3 separate regions of the Homo sapiens genome follow, and all the other regions are linked to region 3. Evidence: fine-mapped expression QTL. A gene starts in region 3. Each other region holds a variant in brackets. All regions are shown on one strand. Distances are from middle to middle.

Region 1 (8,191 bases), 300 kb after region 3:
TGCTTAGATTTGGGAGACAGTTTTGAAATTTTAGCAAACAGAATGTGAGAACTTCTGACAGAGAAGCAATCACACAGCAAGGTTTCCAAGAGGAAAATCAAAAGAAAAAAACATAATATGTTACTTAGCTTTTAAAGGATGTGTCTAACCTACATAAAACAAAACATCAGTATAATCAATGAAATACTGACATGGAATGTAATGTCTCAAACACTTTTAGCAGAATAGCTCAAAATCCAATACAGAATAATCTATTGACAGCACTGTTACAGGCTTCATTTTTCTACCATAATCTGAAGGAATTGAAAATGTGGGTTTCTCTATCTCTTTTCTCACTTATGATAGCAAAAAGTGAGTGATTAAATGATTTTACATAAATAATGCTTTTGGAGTGGCCCTACATTTCTTGATGTGAAATACCTCTCTGTAATATATTCTGTTACACAGAAACATGAACACCAAAGTTTGCCAAATACACATGAATTGATGAAAATAATACAGAGGTCTTCTTAGAAGTCAGAATTTCAACCTTTGTTCTTAGAACAGCTAAGTTTAACTTCTCACTTGGCAATGGTTTATAATATTATATATTATATAATATATAATTAATTATATATGTTATATAAAATATAGATAATTTATATATTATATATAACTTTTTATATACTAATATATATTTTAATATATAATTATATATTAATGTATTAATATATTTTATTAATATATTAATATATTTTATATTAATATTTTGATGTATTTTATAATATATGTATTTTATATTAATATATTGATGTGTTTTATATTAATATATTAATATTATATATAATGGTTTATCATATATATATATATATATACACACACACACACATATACACACACATATACACACACACACACACAAAATCTTTGGGGCCAGGCATGGTGGCTCACACCCGTAATCCCAGCACTTTGGGAGGCCAAGGAGGGCAGATCACTTGAGGTCAGGGGTTCAAGATCAGCCTGGTCAACATGGTGAAACCTCATCTCTACTAAAAATACAAAAGTTAGCTGGGCGTGGTGGTGCATGCCTGTAGTCCCAGCTACTCAGGAGGCTGAGACAGGAGAATAGCTTGAACCCAGGAGTTGGAAGGTGCAGTGAGCTGAGATTGCACCACTGCACTCCAGCCTGGGTGACAGAGCAAGGCTCCGTCTCAAAACAAAAAAAAAAAAAAGAAAAGAAAACCTTTGGAAGCAATTTTTCCTGTTGAGTAAAATAGGCCCGTGAGCAGGGATCCTGGTTGTCAGCCAGCTTTTGAGGGCTCTTCCCAATCTAGATGTCTCTATTTGGGTGTGCTGTCTGCGTAATCATCCGGGTCAGTGGTGTCTAACATCCCCCATGGAAAGAATGCGGTGGTGACACCCAGCATTTGTTTTGTTTGTAGGGAGAACTTGTGAAAGCTAATGACCTTAGTTTAAGGCTGAGAAAACCCAATGAGTTGAAAGTGGCTAAAAACTGAAGACTCAAAAGATATTCCCTTTATTTTATTGTGCACTGGAGTAACCTCTAGTACCCCCTTGGCAGAAGCCTACACCATTAAATTTAAAATGTGATCACCTAACACCCTCATACGTGGGGCTGCATTTCATCACTCTGCCCACAGCCTGTCTTGCTGACATTCTTGACTGGCTGTGAGGCTGTCACTGAGCTTGCCTGGCAGGGCCCACAGTCACCCTTTCCAAGGCTATTGATCTCCATGTGAACAGTTGACAATTCTAATTTCAAACTCCGTATATTTCCAGTTGCACTTTGATGCTGTAATAAATCCAAGGCAAATTATACATATTTAGTTCCTAAAGTAATGATGTATGGATTTACTTTGGATATAGAAAAAATAAATATGCTGTGCATGTCCCCACTTCTTTCCTCCACAGTAACGCAGTATTTGTAAAACAAATGCCATAAAAATTGAGCTGTGAGTGATCCCAAGGAGTGTCTGCTTCTTTTCTTAAAGGCACAGGAAAATAGTATTTAATAATAATATCAAGAATATAATGTTCTACTTGATGTGTTTACTTATTGATAGTTAAATTTAATAGTTGGGGAACATTTGGTCTCTGCTGAAAATATATTTTGTGCTTTAAATTAATCCTTACTTCGATCAAATTTGTAGACTCTAAAGAGACATTCCTCAACAATTCCACCTGATCCCCACTTGTTACACAAGCCAGGCTGCTCAAGTTTCTATCTTTACCTTTACGTGGGGCACCTTTATCCTTTGCTGCAAATTCAAATTCGGATTCAAATTCAAATTTCCTTTGTTCTCAGAAGCCCACCTTCTTCAAAAAAGGCTTCACAATTTCCCTTGCCTTCCCAGAGACCAAAATGACTCAATGTTATTGTGGTAAAATATACATAGCATAAAATTCACCATTTTAATCATTTTAAAATGTACAATCCAAGGGCATTTTGTATATTTACAATGTTGTACAACCATCACCATTATCTACTTCCAGAACATTTTAATCGCCCCAGAAGGAAACCCCTGTACCCATTGAGCAGTCACTCCCGCCAACCCCTCCTCTTCCCAGGCCCTAGAAACCACTAATCTGCTTTCTGTGTCTACGGATTTATCTATTCTCGATAGTTCATGTAGTGGAATTAAGACAGTATGTAGCCTTCTGTGTCGCATTGTTTTTACTTGCTATAATGGTCTCAATTCATCCATGTGTGTAGCATGTATCAGTACTTCATTCCTTTTTACAGCTGAATAATAATCCATTGGATGGACATACCTCATTTAATTTATCCACCCATTAATAACGATTCAGAATGCTTCCACTTTTGGTTGCTATAAATAGTGCTGCAATGAACATTCTTATACAAGTTTTTGTTTGAAGACCCATATTTTATTTTTTCAATACAATTCTTGGAGATATAGATATAGATATATAGATATCTCCAAAAATATCTCCAAGGAATTAGTGAAGGCTTTTTTGAAGAAGGTGGGCTTCTGAGCACGAAGGAAATTTGAATTTGAGTCAGAATTTAGATGTATAAATATAAATGTATATATATTTAAGATAATTTGGCAGTTTCTTAGTAAGTTAAATATATAATTATCATATGACCCAGCAATTCTATTCCTGTTTATATATTTTATAAATTATAATTATATAAGTATAATTATATGAATTATATAAGTATAATTATATGAAATATAATTATATAAGTATATGAATTATATAACTATATGATTTATATAATTATAATTATATGAATATAACTATTCATATTTAAGAATATAACTATATAATTATATTCATATTATAATTATATAGTTATATTCATATTCAAGAATATCATTATATAATTATATTCATATTATAATTATATAATTATATTCTTATATAGTTATATTCATATAATTATATAGTTATATTCATATAATTATATAATTATATTCACATATAATTATATAATTATATTCACATATAATTATATAATTACATTCACATATAATTATATAATTATATTCACGTAATTATATTCGTATATAATTATATTCACATAATTATATACGTATATAATTATATAATTATATTCGTATATAATTATATAGTTATATACGTATATAATTATATACGTATATAATTATATAATCATATTCGTACGTAATTATATAATTATATATTCGTATGTAATTATATATATTCATATATAATTATATAATTATATTCATATATAATTATATAATTATATTCATATATAGTTATATTCATATAATTATGAATATAATTATGATATATATTTATATTATATATAAAATATATAAACATGAATAGAATTGGTGGGTCATATGATAATTATATATTTAACTTATTAAGAAACTGCCAAACTATTTCAAAAGACTTCATCATTTTTACATTCCCATTAGCAATGCGTGAACCAGTTTCTCTACCTCCTCACCAATACTTGTGATTTTCCTTTTCTCAAATTATGATAGCTGTCCTAGTGTGTGTGAAGCATTACATCACTGTAGTTTTGATTTGCAATTCCCTAATGGCTAGTAACCCTGAGCATCTTTTCATGTATGTTAGGCATTATCATCTTTGGAAAATGTCTACTGATTTGTAAATTTTTTCTCTTATTATTTGGGTTGTCTCTTTATCAACAGTTTCCTTTGACGCACAAAAGCCTTTAATTTTGATGAAGTCCAGCTTATCCTTCTTTTGTTGTTCATGCTTTTGGTGTCATATCTAAGACAGCATTGCCAAATTCAGTATCATGGACATTTTCATCTATGCTTTCTTCTAGGAGTTTTATAGTTTTAGCTCTTAAACATAGGCCTTCAATCCATTTTTAGTTAATTTTTGTATACGGTGTAAGGTAAGGATCCTAGTTTATTAATTTGCATGTGGCTAGTCAGTTGTCCCAGCACCATTTGTTGAAGAGACTGTTCTTTCCATCACCCATTGATTTTGAAACTTTCTAGTGGATAGCATTTTAGTTAATTATTATATATTGCTTTTTGTTGTGATTTGATACATGTATGTCTTATTTCTACAAGTAGAGAGGACTCCATTCAAGGGAGGGGACTGGCTTCTGTCATGTTTCTGGTATTTTATGTAAGGGCTAAAATGGTTCCCAGAGTGAGCAAAAAGGAATCAAAGAGGACGCAAGCCCTTGACCCAAGAAAATCAGAGTATTTTATTTAAAGAACAACTTTTAGTTGGTTGGTTTTTTTTTGTT[GT/T]TGTTTTTTTTTTGAAATGGAGTCTCACTCTGTCACTCAGGCCGGCGTGCAGTGGCGTGATCTCGGCTCACCGCAATCTCTGCCTCCCAGGTTCAAGCAATTCTCCTGCCTCAGCCTCCCAAGTAGCTGGGACTACAGGTGCCCACCACCACGCCCGGCTAATTTTTTTTTTGTATTTTTAGTAGAGACAGAGTTTCACCATGTTAGCCAGGATGGTCTCGATCTCCTGACCTCATAATCCGCCCTCCTCAGCCTCCCAAAGTGCTGGGATTTCAGGCGTGAGCCACCATGCCAGCCAGTTGTTTTTAATTATAAATGAATATGACAGAGTCTCTTCCCTCAAAATGTTCACAGCCTAATGGGGGAAGCCAATGCATTTAGTAACCATTAGACATAACATGGCTATTGAGTGGCTCAGATGCAGATCATTCTAGTGAGACATGTTATAAGAGGAAATGCACAACTTAGTACAAAGAGAAGAATGCCACACACATCCTTCATGAATTGTTGATATTAATAACGTTGTAAAATGATATTTTATACATTAGATTAAGTAATAAAGTCACAAACGTGATTTGGTTCTTTTTACTCTTTTAATGTGTCTTGTATTATATTTCTATTGGATAACACTGGCATAGACAAATGGAAAAGCAAGCATCTCACAGCTATACAAATAGTAAGAGAACTGATGTTTATATCCATTTCTTTAAATTTTAGAACTTAGGTTTTTATTTACTGTACTGTACAACTCAAAATTAACCAGGAGTATTAAGATGTGATTGCTGGCTCCAATTTGAAACTAGGAAGTGGGGCTTAGATTCACAACCTATATTCAGTTCTTTATTGTGCACAGAACACCTTCAAGGACACAAGCAAAAGACAAACATGCTGCCCACAGCCTCAAGTTTCAGGGGAGGCACACCTGTCCCACATCACCCAATTAGAGAACAATTACAGGTTAAGCCAGTGGTTCAAAACCAGAGGTAATTTGGTTTGGTTTCCCATGGAACATTTGGCAATGTCTAGAGATATTTTTGATTATCACAGCTGGGGGTACTACTAGTGTCTACTAGATAGAGGCCCAGGGATGCCACTAAATGTCCTATAATGCACAGGACAGACCCCCACAACAAAGAATCAGTTGACACAAACTGTACATAGTCCTGAGGTTGAGAAACCCTGGGCTAAACCATTGCTAAGGGAAGTATTTCAGAGAAAGAGGAGGTGATTGCATGCTGGAGCTCTCAGGGGAAATGACACGAAGGAAAGGACCCTTAGGCAGACTATGAAGTCTTGGCACGTTCTGCTGGGTAGAGGGATGGGGTAAAATGGGCAATAAGAGTGCTGCCAGTTGGGGAGGAGTGTGGCAAGGAGTGGAACTAGAAATGGACTTGAGCCCCTTGGAGTAGAGTGTGTCATGAAAGGAAGCAGTGACTAGAGAGGTGATCTGCAACTCAGAAGAACTGGATTTTAAACCTGATCCTTCTACCTGGCAGCTGGGTGGCTTTGAACAAATCATGTGAGTTTTCTCAACTTCAATATAGTCCTCTGTCAAATGAAAATAATTGTAACAACTTTGACTCTTTCTAAGTTTTGAGTATCAAATGAGACCTTTGGTGTAAAATAATTCATCACTGAAAATACAAAGTATTATTGTTGACTTTATTGTTGTGTTTGTTGCTAAACTGAGTTGGTGCCAGAGTGTGGAAGGCTGGCAAGGAGAGGAAACTGGGTCTGATGAGACCATCTGGAACAGGACAGCAATAAGAGGACAGTGACTCTTCGGAAGGTTCACTTTGATGCAATGTGTAGGAAAGATGGGAACTGCGAGAGAATGGAGTTAGAAAAATCACCTAGGAAACTTTTCTGGGGAAACACCATGAGTGGGTAAGAGGGATCTGGTGGGCACTAAATGGATTCGAGCAGCCACTCCCAGCAGGGCACACTGGGGAGACGAGTTGTAGCCTTTTGTAGAGGTAGACAGAAAAATCAGTAGATTACTCCACGGGCTTGCGCACTAGTCCTATCTAATGCGAAAGATTACGAGTGAAAAATATATGTGGTTTCTAAGACTGGGTGTTTAATATTTTATAAATAATCAACACAGAATCTTAAGAAAATATGGATTATGAAGTTTCCCTGAATATGTCTCACCTTCAATAGTTCTACAATAGTAGTATGTTTTAAAGTTTGCTTCCCTAGTAGGATGTACTTTCTAGCTCTTTGTTTGAATTTTTTTCACATTTAATATTTGTTTTTGTTTTTTGAGATAGGGTCTTCTCTGTCACCCAAGCTGGAGTGCAGTGGCGTGATCTTGGCTAACTGAAACTTCTGCCTTCTGGGCTCAAGTGATCCTGCTGCCTCAGCCTCCCAAGTAGCTGTGACTATAGACGTGCCCCACCACGCCCAGCTAATTTTTGTATTTTTAGTAGAGATGGGGTTTCACCATGTTGGCCAGGCTGGTCTCAAACTCCTGACCACAAGTGATCCACGCACCTCGGCCTCCCAAAATGTTGGGATTACAGGCGTGAGCCACTGTGCCCAGCCTTCACATTTAATATTTAAATTCAGAGTCTTTCAGCCTGGTACCTAGGCAGATAACTACTTTTATTAATTTTTTTTGTTAAAATTATTTTTTTGTAAGACGTTTGGGAAATGATCTAATAGTTTTACTCTATCGTAAGGATATAGAGAATGTAGAAAGTAGGCTCCGTTAGCATGTAAGCTTCCAAAGGGCAGGGATTTGGGGCTGTTTTGTTCATGGTTATAATCCTTTGCTTAGAACACTGCCCAGCACATGGTAGCCTCTATAATTATTTGCCGAATGAATAAATGAACAAATGAATTAATAAGAGGCACATATTGTGTGTGTACTCCTCCTGGATGGTTACGTGGTTAAATGGGCACTGTGTGCATTTTGTGGTGCTGAGTTTGACAATATCTTATTCCCAGTCATGGAGCAAGGCGCTTACAAAAGCCCTGTCATGAGACCCATCTATTGCCACTCATTGATTGCCACCAGCACTCAAATCAATCATTTTCTCCTCTCCTTTTTACCTCCCCTGGAACCCAGCAGCGGTAAAATCAGTAAAGTTGGAAGTGGATGAAGATAAGAGCACAAAGGGATCCAATTTTTCCAACTCGGAAGTGGCAATTGGTTTGTCTCCTTACACCTTTCCCCAGAAGAGGCTTTTCCATGTTGCTGGAGAAGAAAACATCACCTAGGCCGGTGTGTGCCTGGCAGAACACTGCACTCCAATTTCCTCGGGCAGCCACAAAAAAAAAAAAAAAAAGGTGGGGTTGGGGCCGGGGGACAGCTCTTCAGTAAGATGTGACAATATGCCAGTTTCACCAATGATAAGAGAAACCTGAGATACCAACAGTCAGCACAGACCACAGGTCATGTTTGACAGTGCAAAGCTGCAAGGTCCTTCAGACCAAGCAAATAGGAGAGTGGGCTC
Region 2 (8,191 bases), 270 kb after region 3:
ATGGGAAAGGATGGGTTTATGGTATGTTGTGGTTTTCTGTTCATTGTTGTTCTTGTGATTTTGGTTTGGGTTGTTTCTTAATCAGGATGGAAGAGACTTTAGCATGTATTTAAGCAGAGGGAACGTTGCTGTAAAAGAGAAGACAGAAAGAGAAAGAGAGAGAAAGGAAGAAATAGGTTGGAAGTCTGAGAAAGGAATAAGAAAATTGTTGAATCACTAATTCAGAAGACTGTGTGAAAGGCACAAGTGAAGAGAGCCTTGGCTAGGAGGAGGAACCACCCTGAGACTGATAGAAATGGGATCACGGTGGCAGTGGGTACCATGACAAGGAGTGCCTGGAAGCTGAGATAGAGGATACCAATAGTCTCAACTCTCTTAATGCAGTGGAGACAATACAGTCTGCTGAAAATGAGTCAGGGTGGCCGGACGTGGTGGCTCACACTTGTAATCCCAGCACTTTGAGAGGCTGAGGCGGGTGGATTGCCTGAAGTCAAGAGTTGGAGACCAGCCTGGCCGACATGGTGAAACTCGTCTCTACTAAAAATACAAAACAAATAGTCAGATGTGGTTGCAGGTGCCTGTAATCCCAGCTACTCAGGAGGCTGAGGCAGGAGAACCGCTTGAACCCAGGAGGCAGAGGTTGCAGTGAGCGAAGATCGCGCCATTGCACTCCAGCCTGGGCAACAAGAGCGAGACTTTGTCTCAAAGGAAAAAAAAGAAAAACGAAGGTTTGAGATGAGTGGGGAAAGTTTAGAGGCATCACTGAGGAATGGAAAGTGAGGAGTCTAAGAATGAGTAAAATACCCCTCTGAGGTTAGGGAGTAAATGAGTAAAATAGCCCCTCTGAGGTTTGGGAGTTCCAATTGGTAATGATTTCTATCTGCAAAGCTGTGGAAGTTTCTACAGTGGTAATTAGTCATCCCAGGGAGGGAAAAAAAAGGTGAATTGCAGCTTTAATTCAATGTGGAGGTTTTCCTGGTTGAAGATATTGAGAAGCCAGGATACCAGGGAATGGAGAATGCGTGTTCAAGAGTAAAAGACTGGCTCCACCCAGCTGTGGAGAGGGAGACATGGGATGGAAGGATGAGATCAGAATGCGTTTTCAGGGTTGAGGACTTCTGAAGGAAGCACCCCAGGGGATAAAAAGATCCAGACTGCTGCTCAGTGATGGTGCTGGAATTGCAGGGTTACACCATGTGGGGGGTGTCCGCAGAGACTTTGCCTCCCACGGTGAGGCTGCCAAGGTTGGAGTTAAAGGGAAGTATATGAACAAAAGGCTAGAATCTTTAATAAATAAGGGGGAGTAACTGGGGATTGGATTGACATGAACTTGACGGCCTCACTTCAAAAGAGTTGGGAGAATAAGGATTGGGAAACAGCTCAGAGTCAGAGAGTCTTTCTCAGAGTCAGAGAGTCTTTCTTCCTGCAACTAACCTAATAGAATATGGAAGCAAAATGAGGCTTCAGGAAAAGAGGTTTGCTAAGGGGGAAGCCAAGTCTCCAATAGGACCAACAGGTGCAGAAGCTGCTGCAAAAACTGTGGATATAAGAGAGTGTGTTATCAATTAAATATGATGTCAATGGTACAGAGAAAGGGGCTGGGAAGAGAAGGGGAGCAAAGAAACAGGAGCAAAGGAGTGCTGGACAACATCACAAGGAAGTGGTTCATTTAACAACTGGGCAGCTTCCCTGTGCAAAAGCACACTGAGGACTGAGACTAACCAGGTGCCTGCTTTCCTGGAGCTTCAGTTCCAAATAACTTGCACTGTGTTTTGTAACTAAACATTGTAGACAGCCGATGCATGGTTTCAAGCTGTAAAACTACAGCTAATCATTTACATATTGTTTATTAGACTCACTGTAAACAACATCCCATTAAAATGAATATAGAACTGAAAAATGCTTTTAACTTTGAGCGGTTATGGATAGCACTATGGGGCCAGCTATAATATTAGTAAAATATCACATGGTTTGGTTAGGAAATTCTTGTAGCACGATGGTGAGCCTCAAGTCTATGATAATCAGCCTGGAAGATAAAGCAGTTCTATTTTTTGCACTTGTTTGATCATATTTTCCACATATCTTCAAAGACAGGCATTTGCATGGTGTTAGGGCAGTTAAGCATAGTGGTTATGGGAAACGGTATCATGCGACAATTGAGAGCATGGATCTTGGAGATAAACCTGTGGGATTTAGATCTCCATTCTGTGCTTAGAATGTAGGGAATTATGGGCAGGATACTTAACCTCTCTGGGCTTTGGTGTCCTCACCTGTAAAATGGAAAGGATATGAATACATCTGTCTCATGAGGTTGTTGCAAGAATTAAATGAGTCACTAAAAATAAAGCACTTAGAATGCTGCCTGGCACACTGGAAGTCCTAAATAATTGTTAACAACTACCATAATTGCATAGAGCATGCCACTCTTTGAAAGGTATTGTGTCTTCTATAGTTGATACTGCTTTGCAAAGTGTTGGCTGTACTAGTTTTGCAATTGTACTTCTGACCTAGTAACAACTGTGCCAAATTGCACAAGCAGATAGTAATGTCTGGCAGTGTCTGAAGTTTTCACTGCTAATGGAACAACTGGAACTGACTTTTACTTGGCATCCAACCAATGAATTCTTGCCATCATTTCAGCAATATTTTTGCCTTTTGTCTCTAATATTTTCAGTGGCCATGCACTAAATACTTATAAAAAGCAGCTTATTTCTTTCTGGGCAATAGGTGACGCTCCTTACAATGTGGTTGAGAGCACAGGATGGCATTCTTGTTAACAGAGGAGTCTGTTTCTGCCTGTATTTAAGAGAGACACTCAGTCTGGGTTTTGCTCATTACAGTTTTGCAATCCAGGGTCACTTCTAGGTGGGGCACTCTACTGACAACAAAACAAGCATGAACAGTATTTATGATCTAAATGATGGGGTGCATTGGCCTTATGATACTGCTTTATTCATTCAACAAATATTAGAAATATGTCTCAGATCCTCTGCTAGATCCTGGGTGACAGCCCTACTCTGTAGACTATCTCCAGATAGTTAAATAGGAACTCAGATAAATGTGATAAAGATGTTAGTGAAGCAATGGCATGCAAGTGGGTGTCAGGTGATGGAATGTGGTCGCGTAGAAAAAAAAAAAAGCATTTGTCGTACTATACCTTTGTAGGTATCTTTATTATGAACCTGATGAGAAACTGCATTGATATGAATTGCTGTGAACTCTTCATTTTCAAATGCTTTCTGAGCATCAAATTCTATTTCAGATGATCACACATACACACACACAGTCATACTCTCTCCTTCTCTCTCCGTAAGAATGCCACATGAGTGAATCTACGCAGAAAAAAGAAAACCACTCTATATGTTGAAACATTAATAACTTCACACTACACTAATAGTATCATCATTGACACCTTAATGCCTAATTTTCTTTTGGGCCAATCAATCTCATCTGAACAGTTACCTGGCAATCTTATAAAATAAAAGAAGTGTAAGATATTTAAAAGACGTGCTTTCTGACTTTTAAAATCAAAGTAATTTTCCTCCAAATGAAAAATATTCCATAAATAAAAATGTGTATTTAATTCAATTCCTTCCTGCCTTTAACTCGCCATTATTGCAAACAGCCTCTAAAACTCTTCTCAGTTCTAGGTGGAAGTGTTGCTGGACTCTCTAAGTCAGCCCCATTGCCTTCTGTAATATTATGTTGTCTCAGGACCACCACCCTGGTTCATGTTTTATACTTTTCTTCAGCTTGTTTAAAGTGTTCTTGTTTAAAGCATTTTAAAATAGTTTGTGGCTGGGCATGGTGTCTAACACCTGTAATCCCAGCACTTTGAGGGGTTGAGGCGGGTGAATCACTTGAGGTCAGGAGTTCAAGACCAGCCTGTCCAACATGGTGAAACTGCATCTCTACTAAAAATACAAAAAATTAGCCGGGAGTGGTGGTGGGCACCTGTAATCCCAGCTACATGGGAGGCTGAGGCAAGAGAATCGCTTGAACCCAGGGAGCTGAGGTTGTAGTGAGCTGAGATCATGCCACTGCACTCCAGCCTGGGTGACAGAGTGAGCTCTGTCTCAAAAAACAAATAAAATAAGAAATAATAAAATAATAAAAAAATTTTAAAAGTTTGCATTTATCTAAACAATTTCTGATGATGGGAGTGGTACAGTATCTTAACGTGGATTTCCCTAAAGAAAAGTCCCTGAGACAAAGATTCAGGTGGAGGTAGCTCATTTAGAATGTGTTCCCAGGAGGCACAAGGAAGAATGAGAGGGTGAGAGGAAGAGCCAATAAAGGGTTAATGAGCAGATTTCTGCTGCGGCTGTGCATTGTTTTACTATTGCTGCAAAACCACCTCAAAACCTAGTGGTGTAAAACAACCACTTATTGTGCTCACAGCTTCTGTGGGTCAGAATTGGGATAGGCACAGAGTGCCTCTGCTACACAATGTCCGGGATATTGGCCAGGAGAGTTTCAAAGGCTAGGGTTGCAAGACAGCTAGAGGCCAGAATCACATAGAGGTGTCTTTAGTGCCTGCTGGTTGATGCAGACACCCCAGTGGGGCCTCAACGGAGCACCTACACCTGGCCTCTTCCTATAGCCTGGGCTTCCTCACAGTGTGGCCACCTCAGGGCAGTCAGACCTCTTAAAACAAGGCCCCCAAAACAAACGTCCCAGGGAACAAGAAAAACTGGCATCACTTCTTTGACCTAACCTTAGAAATCACACAGCTACATTCTGTTGGTTACAAGCAAGTGATACTCCTGC[C/T]TTAACATAAGGGGTGGAAAAAAATAAAGCTCAACTCTTGAAGGAAGTTATGTCAAAGAATTTCCAGCATTTGTTCTAGAAACAAAAACAAGAACAACAAAATGTTGGCATAGTATAAGCAACCGTCTTCCTTCTTGCCTGGAATGGTTAAAGTGAGTGAAGAGGTGTGAGAGGGAATATGAATTAACAGACAATTACAATATACTATAACATACAGGTGATAAGAAACAAATATGTCGAAACTATAATTGGATCACAGTAGAGGGGCATGTTTATCTTGGCCAGGAGATTCAGGAAAGGTGGGTGAGAGTCCATCAGATGAAGAAACGTAGGGAAGAGATTTTTAAGTGGAAGGAATAAAAGCAATCTCTTGGTGTGTGCAATTTGGTAAAGTGGGAGGAGGAGAGTGGCAGATAAATGTGGAAAGGAGGCCAAGAGTGGTGGCTCATGCCTGTAATCCCAGCACTTTGGGAGACTGAAGTGGGAGGATCACTTTAGGCCAGGAGTTTGAGACCAGCCCGTGCAACATAACAAGACCCCATCTCTATAAAACAATTAAAAAGGTAGCCAGGCATAGTGCTGCACACCTGTAGTCCCAGCCACTCTGGAGGCTGAGAAGAGAGGATCACTTGAGTCCCAGAGTTCGAGGCTGCAGTGAACTATGATCGCACCACTGCACTCCAGTCTGAACAACAGAGTGAGATCCTGTCTCAAAAAAAAAAAAAAAAAATTGGAAAGGGAAGATCATGAAAAATCTTGAATATCATACTGACAGGCAGAGATCTGATTTTTAGGCAATGGAGGGTCCTTAAAAGTCACTGTAAGTATCTAAGAGAAAGATTATCATAGCCTGAAGGAAGGAAGTATAGCTAAACAGTAGGGAATGGGTTTGAAAAATATTTAGAAAGTAAAATAATTAGTGCCTGGGGATTACTCAAGTGTGTGAAGCACAGGAAAGGGAGAAGTCAAGCTTCACACCAGGTTCCTACCTTGGGTGCTTGAAGGAATGGTGGTTCCCCCAGGTGAGGAATTTCCTAAGAGAAGCAGGTTACAGAGGAAAAGAGTGAGTATGAGGTGCCTGTGACCTCCACAGATACACAACCCCAGGACAGGTGCATATATGAGTCTAAACTTAAGAGAGAGGGACAGTCAAAAGATACCAATTACGGAGTCATCAACAAATAGGAAGAGAATGAGATTGTCCAAGAATACATGGAAAGACAGAGAGCAGCTCTTTTGGCCCTTGGAATGCAGATGTTGCTAGTAACTTGATGTTGTTCGCAGCTGATGACCTCAATTTTCTTGATGATAAGGAAGACAAAGTTATCTCTTGAGAGAAAGTGGAACTCAAATACTGATGACAATTTTTAGTACAACAGTGACAAAGAGAAACAAAGATCTAGAAAAAAAGAAGAAAATATGCTCTGTTAGTGTCATGCAAGTCTTCATCATTGTTCCTATTGTTAACAAACCCTTTCCTTGTACTCTAAAATTCTAACCCTAGGTCTCTAATTTTTCTCACATGGCTGTACAAAACTACCTGAGACTGGACATTTATACAGAAAAGAGGTTTAATTGACTCAGTTTCACAGGCTGTACAGGAGGCATGGCTGGGGAGGCCTCAGGAAACTCACAATCACGGCAGAAGGTGAGGGGGAAGCACATCTTCACATGGTGGCAGGAGAGAGACAAAGAGTGAAATGCTACACACTTTTTTTTTTTTTTTTTTTTTTTTTTGAGACAGAGTCTCACTCTTGTCACCCAGGCTGGAATGCAATGGTTTGATCTTGGCTCACTGCAACCTCCAGCTCCTGGGTTCAAGTGATTTTCCTGCCTCAGTCTCCCGAGTAGCTGGGATTACAGGCATGTGCCACCATGCTTGGCTAATTTTTGTATTTTTAGTAGAGATGGGTTTTTGCCATGTTGGCCAGGGTGGTCTTGAACTCCTGACCTCAAGCGATCTGCCCACCTTGGCCTCCCAAAGTGCTACACACTTTTAAACAACCAGACCTCATGAGAACTCACTCACCATCACGAGAACAACAAGGGGGAAATCCACCCCATGATCCAATCACATCCCACCAGGTCCCTCTTCTAACATGTGGGGATTACAATTCGACATGAGATTTGGGACACAGCATCAAACCATATCAGTCCTGCTCACTAAACTGGTAAAAAAAAAATTGCTAAAAATGTTAAAGTAATATTTTCCATAACCTTGGGCACCCTCATAGTTGATTTCAATTCCTTCTGATTTACACACACATTGAATCATCACTAAGCAAGAAAATATAAGCCTTCTCCAATGGCAACACCTGTGTAAACCTATTGAGGAGACCAGGCACAATGGCTCACACCTGTAATCGCAGCACTTTCACAGGCCAAGGTAGGAGAATCGCTTGAGCCCAGGAGTTCAAGATCAGCCTGGGCAAACGGCAAAACTCTGTCTGTACAAAAAATTAAAAAAGTACAGATGTAGTGGCATGCACTTGTAGTCCCAACTACTTGGGAAACTGAGGCGGGAGGATCCATTGAGCCCGGGAGGTCAAGGCTGCAGTGAGCTGTGGTCATGCCACTGCACTCCAGCCTGGGCAACAGAGAGAGACCTTGTCTCCAAGGAGAAAAAAAAAAAAACTGATGGGGAGATATTTTCTTTTTTCTTTTCCTTTGATGTTTAGGATTCATTATTCTAAAACATCTCAACAATCTATGTGTGTCAGAAATGGTTTCCAACAGACAATAAATATAGACTCCTCCTATCAACCTTCATTACCACAAGAAATTCAGAGTATTGATGCTCTAGGAAAGATGCCTTCCCTAGAGAAATTGGCAGAGGAACAGAATGAGGACTAAGAAGACAAGATGAACAACCTGTTTATATGAGGACATTACTGCCTTACTCAACAGATACGAGCAGTGTAACGATGGTAATATTGGAGTGCATGAGTGTTTTACCTATAAAAGAGATCCTCCTAGTTAAAAAGAGCTGAAAAACCACTGAGTTAGATAATCCTAATCCATGGATAATCCCCACATTTTCCTTTAATGGCTTCATCTGCCACCCCCAAGAAAGCTTCCATCCAAGCTCTGAACGTGAGCCAAATGGGCAGATCTGAGTTTTGCCCCCTCTTAATGAAGCATGGTAAATGACCACAAGGCAAGCTGCTAAGAGAGGAAATGAAAGGACCCCGGGGTCTGGATATACCAAACTGGCTAATTGGCCCCTGAAAGATAGTGAGCAGCGTGTTAATGCCTCTTGTGTCCTAACAGAACAGCAGGATCTCCATGGAAGAATACCTCTCCAACTGGGAGGTCACCATAAAAGCAACATTCTCAACCGGCATCCTTTGTCCCTGTTGAAAGCCCTGAAAACATTTCTGCACAGTGTTACTTTGCCGTTTAGAGGACTTGGATGCAGGGT
Region 3 (8,191 bases):
AAAACATAAAAGCTGACTTCCACGCATAATATCACAAATGTCTAATGTGACTGAATTAATGATGTTGCTACTTATTTCATAAAAGAGTAAAACACTATTTTCAAAGGATAGATCTTGCTTTACATAAAATGTTCTTGAACTGCATGAGAGACACTGAATAATTCTGTACAGAAGTCCAGATTCAACTTTCCTGAAAATGATTGGGAAATGACTAGATAAATGATCATAGCTAATGTTTATTGTTTAGGTAAAAGTACCTAAGTAGAAAAGAGATCTTTAGGCCAGGCACAGTGGCTCACGCCTCTAAACCCAGCACTTTGGGAGGCCGAGGCAGGCAGATCACTTGAGGTCAGGAGTTTAAGACCACCCTGGCCAACACGATGAAACCCTGTCTCTACTAAAAATACAGAAATTAGCCAAGTGTGGTGGAGTGCATCTGTAATCCCAGCTAGTCAGGAGATGGAGGCAGGAGATTTGCTTGAACCTAGGAGGCGGAGGTTGCCTTGAGCCGAGATCACCACCACTGCACTCCAGCCTGGGCAACAGAGCCAGACTCTGTCTCAAAAACAAAAACAAAAACAAAAAAAAGAAAGGTGATCTTTAAAATACCATTTAATCCACCTCCTGCTATTCTTCTTTCCACAGAGTACATAATTGTTCCACCACTATAACGGTTTCACATGTATACATTTAACTTGGAGTTCAATAGAAGAGAGAGAAAGATTCTAAAAATACCTGAAAGAGAGATGTAAACATTAAAAAAGGCAATAATTTAAGTGGTAAAAATAATTCTAGCTAATGGCTTTATATGGACTAGCTTTTTGCATTGTGACAATTCTTAGTTATGGAAGCTAAGACATCCTCACCCCGGTTAGGTAACTCACACAGGTCACAAAAGCTGTTAGTTTTGGAGCAGACTCCTATCCTGATACTTTGTTTTCAAGTTCTTAACTGTCCCTGTCCCCTTATTTGATTAGCTGATCCAGTACAGAGTAACAGTCAAACATTTAAGGAAGTTGGTATTTAGATTTGCAAGTAGAAAGAAGGGGACAAATATTTTGAACTCCTTCAGTGTTCCTGACACAATACTAAGTACTTAGGAAGTTTTCTCACTATTTATCTTTACACTCATATTTGGTAAAGCCTTTATAAGACTATAAGATCTGAGATTTGTTTGGAATCAAGCAACTCAACAATGAAAAATAAATATAAGTAATTAAAGATTTGGGAAGTAATCCTATTAATAGAAGAAAACATAATGTATTTTTTGTGTAGAAAAGGGTATGTTTATGAGAAACTTACTAACAAGAGTTTCTAGATATCTAAAAGGCATTTGTGAACAGAGTTTTCTTGTTTTCCCAAGCCAATAGAAATAGAAACAAAACTAAAGTATATGGCGCGGGGTACAGTATTCATGAATAAAATGTAGCTAAGAATTAGCATGATGCTGATATAATATTGAGTAACCACTGTATATCAGTACTAAAGGCAGTGACAGAGATAGAGATATCAAGTTATATTAGGAAAGACATAATATCAGTTCTCATTCCTTTCTTCTCCAGTGTTTTTCTTAGGGAAATAAACATAAATACACAAATATTTCTGCATATAAATTTCATCCTGCTTTCCAATCTATAAGTTATGTGAAATTGTCTCTATTTTTAAAGAGAAACTATTAGAGTTTAAGAAGTCTTCCCAATTTAATAAAGAAATTAAGTGGAAGTCAAGGAAGGCAGTTTATGGAGAAAAAATTAAAGCACAAAGCTTGGAGCTAGAATATCTGAGTTCCAGTGTGGACCTGGGCACTTTGTATCATTTGACTGTGAGAAAATTGCTTCTCAATACTTTATTTGTAAAATAAAACATATGAATACACGCAAAATTGTTGGAAAGATTAAATAGGCATACTGTCAGTAGAAACACTTTGAATATAAATATAAATACTTTTTAAAGAATTTATGGAAGAACAGACTTCTTTCTTGGCCTATGGTTGAAGATTAAATTAAAGAAACCTAAATGCTCATGTTTTTAGTCAATAAGACTTTGATCTAAACTTTTAAAGCTGCTTCTGACCAAACGTTTTTATTTGACTACTTCTCATCTTCAAACTCATGCACAGTATAAGTCATTCTTGCCATCTAACATGGGTCTAATATGGTTCATGATTTGCATTAACTTTGAGAGATTTTAGCTACCTAATAAGGAAAAAAATAGTAGTTAGAACCTTGTGCATCTTTGAGTTATCACCTACCCAATATTATCAAAAAGTACTACAAGATAGCCCTTGTGATATACAGGGATGGAGAATAACAGTGAACAATGAAAACTACTTACAATTTCAGAGAAGAACAGGATAGATCTTAGGGCCAACAAGTTTAAGATGTCTTTTACCTCTTTATATGTTACTCATTTTATCACATCCAACTGGAATTATTCTTGCACTTCCTATTATTGAAAGCTTCTAGAAATTTGCAAGAAGCAGATAGACCTAATAATTAATCTGATCATCAGTCCCCCCCCAAAAAAATGCTTGAGTCATAAATAGCAGCGAAATCCATTGATTGTAAATAAAGTAGAAGGGAGACATGACTGAGCCATTTCCACCAAGCAAGATAATTAAAGTCAGAGATGCTGTTTCCTGCTTCCCTGGTATAAACAATGAAGCTGCTCTACTGGCCTCTCCACAGCCTGGATGTCCCAAAACCACCTCCCTCTTCTTTCCTTCCACATTCTCTAAAGAGGATTCTGGGTCATAAAGGAAGGAAAATTGGTGTAACTTTTTTCCTGAAACGACTTCAGCTTCCTCTGTGTTTGTATTTGTGATATCTTATTATAAGACGAGCTAACATCTATTATTAATTGATGCACTAATTAAAGCCATACTTGCAGTTTCCATTAGCTTATTCCCTAAATTCTCCAGAGTTGCCTGTCTGGTTTTAATCAAAACCAAATGGTAGTCCAAATTCCCAACCTGGAGCAGCTAGGAGGAAGTCATTCAAGGGAGGCACAAGAAAGCAGAAAAGATAAACAGATGATAGTTCACAAAATTTGTGACGGACGAAGGATGCAGATACCATGAGCGGCTTTAGAGATGTGATTCAGGAACGCTGCCATGCTAGATGGAAGCAGTTGTAAGTGTTTAATGTCAGCAAGACTCTAATACGATCAAGATGGAGCCTGTCTTCTGCTCCAGCACTGGATTTTTGTAACTGGAGGATTCTGACTAGAGGTAATGCGCTGCTGCATTTGCCATAACACGAACTATTTTAATTCTGTGAAGGATTCTTGTGATCAGAGAGATCTGGAAGAAATCGTTCTATTAACTGGATGCTTGGGATTTTACTTACAGATGGTCTCAGGGACAGAATGAAAAGCTGCAGCATTTCCAATTTTAAGTCATGTTCAAAAAAGGTTTTGCCATTTAGAAGAATTATGGTATTAAGGCTAAATTCATCTTGCTCTCTTAAAAGATCTTTTGAAATGAGAGCAAGCACAGGCATTTTGATTAAGCTGTGCATATACATTTAATATAGTGGAAAGGTTGTGGATAGAGAGAAAACTACGTTTTCTTTCTTTCTTTCTTTCTTTTTTCATAAGCAGTGTGGGATAGAAAAAGCTCTAGGACTTTATGACTCTACAGCTAATCACCTCAAGAGCTTTGACAAAACTCACTTGAGTTCTGTGTAAAATCAGAACTCCTAAAACGCCCAGGCGGCTGGGCTCTCCCCTCCTCCCCTCTCTTCGTACAGCCTTTCTAGCATGCACACTCCTCAGAGGCAGGAAATACTTTCCAGGCAATCTGGGCCTGGTTGTGGAGGCCCCTTTTGCAAAACCTCAGTCTGAATTTAGTAGACAGAAGTCACTAGGAATGCCTTGACAGGATCCTGCCTTAGCTAAGGCTCCCTCCAGCTGCAGAGGGTGTTTTTGTTAGACTCACACACTGCGTGAAACTGCTCAGAATAGAGCCATGATCTCAACCACGAAATGGGAACTTAGATTTTGGAGAAACTAACGGGGACGGACTTCTTTCCTAGCCTGAGTGTTGAGCAGTGTCATGCCTTGGCGTTTCAGCTCCTCGTTGTCTAGGTAAGACGCTATGGACTATCTTTATGCTTTGAGGCGGTCTTTGAAGAGGCAGAAAGATTGAGATAAATGTTAGCATCTTGCACGGAGTTGGTGACTTCCTAGGTTTTAGAGCAAAGCCATAAAATCAGAAGTGGAAAATGTTTGATAAGTAGAAAATTCTGAGTCAATTCGTTTTAGCAAACTGTCAGTTCTAAAACAGGCTCCATATAGATTTAACTCTTTTCCTCCATAAAGTAAGATTTTATTTTTATCCCTTTTTACGTTTAACTTATTTATTAATTGAGCTGTCGGATCAGTTTTCCTATTTCTTGGCATAACGTGAAACAAATACATTTTCTCACACATCAGTGTGAGGTGTAAATGAATTCCTCCCCTACCTTCCTTTGCCAACAGGGAGAGTAGAAAGCACCCGAGTGACTTGTGCTTAATAATCAGTCTCCAAAGAGTATTTTGTGTCTCATTTAAAACTACGAAGATTGAATTTCTTATTATTTTACCCAAGCCAGTTTCAATCATATGTCAAGCTTCTCCTGTACAGCTTAAAAGGTTCATTTAAAAAAAAAAAGTAAACACGTGAAATTTCAGGAATTATTTCTGTCCTAAATAGTATTTAATCTGAGTTTTGGAAATTTAAATGTCGGAATCGAATTTAGTTTATATTAATTTTCCTGGATTCACTGCTTGCTCCGGTCACATTTTGTGTAATATTTTGAATAACTGAAGTCAATCTCAATGACACTGACACTCATTATAACTCTTTTAAGGCAGCCAGAAATCACTCCAGTCATATGGAAACTGTTTGTGTCCTTACTTATGTAATCGTAAAATTACATTTCCACCTGACTGTAGTCTCTTCAAGGTAATCTTAAATGTTTAAATGTACAATATATTAGAAAAGAAGTTTAGTAATGACCGAAAAAGTGTGGACTTATAATGCATAAGATACTGTTATATTTCTGAATATTTATAATAAAATTCATCATTTTATAGAAATAAAATGGTACATAAAGGGAAGAAATATTCATGTACATTTTCAAATCTATTAGATGAATACAAAATATACTAAGTGAAAGATGGAGAGCTATTTTGACAGTTGGATCATAAGAAATGAAGTAACTGTTTTCATTATAAGTTTTTATATAGTACAAGGTGACCATCTGCTATATTAGCTATTCTCAAATTTTATGCTAGAATAACTTATATTGATAAATTTTAACTATTCACTGACAATTTGTGTTAAAACTTCTTAAATATGAGAAAAAGAATCTACTTTTTATATATGTGGAAGATAAAATACTGACTTATCTAAATTATGATTTAATTAAAATCTCCAAATGGAATTTCAGAGAAGGAAAGAACATAAGAGATGGTCTCCTCTAACAATGGCTTGAGGTTGTCTACAAGAAGCTGAGAAATGGGATTTAAAAGTGACCTGTCCAAGGTCACACCTCTAGCTAATAGAAGAGAGGACAGCAGAACCACAGTGCCCTGATTCATAATTCAGATACCTTTTTATCCCATCATCCTGCCCTCCCATAATAATTATGCATAATGAAGTATGAACATGTCCAGTAGAAGGGTGCTTTGCAGACAGAAATTTGCAGTTCCTCTAATTTAAAAAAAAAAAAAAAAAAAGGTAAAACTGTCACCAATGTTAATTATGTGGGGAAAAAAATCCTAACTTTAAAAAAAAATCAAATCAGTATGCCTTCAATAAACACTTTACAGTAGTAACTTGCTTTATGACTATTTTATTATATTTGATGTTTATGTCAAGAAAATCAATCCATATGCTAATAATTATATTAATTTTAATCTGATGTTTCTTTAAAAATAGGGCTAGAAAACAGCTTTTCTAATTTATATCCTTGTACTCAAATGATCATAATGAAACTGTCCCAACCAATGACTTTCAGAGGCAATTTTACAGCACCACCCCCAGGCATCCTTTCTTCTATCTAGCCTAAATCATTGTTGCTGTAGCTTATTTCAAGTTCTATGTGGGTCTTTTCACTAAATATATAAAAAGCCTAAGTTGACATATAAAAAATATGTTTACATTTCTCCAGCATGTTTGCAATCCCTTAATTGATTTGTATGTCTGCTCTAAGCCTTCTACAAAGTCATTTAATTGTAGAATGCAGAATTTTTACAGTATATAAATAAATGTCTGAACAACGTGGTATAAAATGGGAGCGTGGGCTATTTCATCTGCATCATACTTCATATATGACAATATTTGTTGCTGTGTGTGCTGAAGCAGTATACCTTCTCAGACAAGACCCTTTCTCATAAATGTAACACATTCCATTTCTAATAGCTGCCATTTCCTTAGAGAGAATGTGTCACGATACTTTTTTTTTCCATTTTCATGACCAGATTGAGTTTCCTGATGTTATTACTACTTAAAAGAGACACTATTCAACACTTCCTTTCAATGTCACCACACTCTACATTATTGGAATGAGAAATAAGTGCAGTAAAGTGGTGGCCCTTATAGCTGACTGCCTGATTCCTAGAAGGCCTAGTAAAAGATAGCACATCACTTCATTTTCTTCATAAGGACATTATAATTTAAAAAAAAGAATTTTTTCTCTCTCTGTCTATACCTACCCATACCATATAACTCACTACAAATACTTATGGGATGGTTTAATCTTATTCATAGAGTTTTAGATCTTACAGGCTTAAAATAGGTCAAAAATTGATCATTTGAAATTTGTCTTTTGTTTGTTTTTTGTTTCCTCTTGAAAAATGAGTGATGTCAGTGTTATAAAATGAGAATCACTCTTTAAAAACTATTACAGTATGGCAAAGTTCCAAATGACCAAGATCTAGATCAGGGATTTTATTATCAAAATAGAGACATGTCAAGAATTGCACATGAGAATTGGAAGAGGACAAGGGAACACTGAAAACTTTCAAATTTGAGGGAAGTAGTGTGAATATTGGGCCTGCTTTCCCCACACGAAAGATAAGCCCCTTGCATAAACAACATAGACCAAACAGAGTTACAGAGAAGAATGACTCTTGATTGACTTTGGTGTGATAGAGAAATACAGTGTTTACTTCTATGGTTCTGTTTTGGCTTTCAACTGATAGTTTACAGAGTTTTGATAAATAAATGGGCTAATTTTTAAGAAAGTTAAACAGAATAATAATGAATAAACTAGGACCTTGAGGCCCAGTTAAAAAAGATTGTTAATTTTGATTCAGTGGATTAGAGTATATAAATGAACTTTAAAAGATTAAACAGTGACTCAAATGCCAAAAAAAAAGGTGAAAGATAATGTAAACAGCATGCATATGAACTTGCTCATTAATTGAGATAAATGGGTGGAAAAGACAATTGCATGTGTGAAAAGGTTGTTTCTGTATTAGCTTGAAATAACAAAGTGTTTTAGCAATGCAATTCAAATAATTCAAAGAGAAAATCAGCCCTGTTAATGGAAATGAGATAGAAAAGAAGTAGGAAGATCAAACAGCAGGTTTAGATACTCAATTAGTGTTTCTTTTATTCCCAGCAATTAGCAAAATACCTAGCTTGCCAGGAATTATCAACACTTATTTGTCAATAAATGTTTGTGAAATGAATGGAAGGAAAAGCGAAGGAAAAAAAAAAGAAAGGAAAACCAGGGTTGAGGAATGGTAATGTGTGGGAGTTGGACTTCTTTCTTATTTTCCAGACATCCTGTAATAATAGAATAATAATTTCTAAAGGGGAAGGAAAATAAGAGGTTGGAAAGAGTCATCAGAGCCTGGGGCCAGAGGTTAACAACACTCTCATTAGATGACATTTCAAGTTCATTAAGCACCAGAAGGAAGCATAGGCATCCAGAAATGGTTTGAAATTAAAAGTTACATGAGGCCAGTGAGAACAGAGCACTAGTGAATTTTCCACATTTTAAATGGGGTGGTGTACCGAAAAAAATAATGGACAAAGTTAGAAAACTGGCTCTGATTTCCTCTTAACCACTTGACGCTCTGTGATTTGATGTTTGCCCCGTAACTACTTTGAGTTTCTGCTTTTTATTAGTAAAGTATGGGATTTCCAGGTCATGTTAGGCATTAGATGAGATTTCATGTGTGCAAATTGTTTTGCATA

Alleles and levels. Alleles are on the strand shown, and positions count from the first base shown. SD is a standard deviation of normalised expression in the study named. Not every link is listed here.
As copies of T replace GT in region 1, the expression in monocytes after Pam3CSK4 of the gene that starts at base 3,837 in region 3 goes up (large effect, 1.2 SD a copy in Quach 2016).

Evidence for each region. PIP is the estimated chance that this variant, and not a neighbour inherited with it, causes the effect.
Region 1: its variant is the best candidate, but not a certain one, in a credible set for the expression of DLC1 in monocytes after Pam3CSK4 (Quach 2016, PIP 0.70).
Region 2: its variant is the best candidate, but not a certain one, in a credible set for the expression of DLC1 in monocytes (TOPMed, PIP 0.69).

What each region holds. Positions count from the first base shown.
Region 1 is chr8:13,214,390-13,222,580 of GRCh38, reverse strand. All of the region lies in intron 5 of DLC1 (DLC1 Rho GTPase activating protein), which reads left to right. Among named protein-coding and RNA genes, the nearest start is that of TRMT9B, 270 kb to the right of the region's middle. The variant GT/T (reference allele first, on the strand shown) is at 4,730.
Region 2 is chr8:13,241,607-13,249,797 of GRCh38, reverse strand. All of the region lies in intron 5 of DLC1 (DLC1 Rho GTPase activating protein), which reads left to right. Among named protein-coding and RNA genes, the nearest start is that of DLC1, 270 kb to the left of the region's middle. The variant C/T (reference allele first, on the strand shown) is at 4,771.
Region 3 is chr8:13,510,497-13,518,687 of GRCh38, reverse strand. It overlaps DLC1 (DLC1 Rho GTPase activating protein), which reads left to right and starts at 3,837. Exons shown (of 18, transcript NM_182643.3): 1 at 3,837-4,086.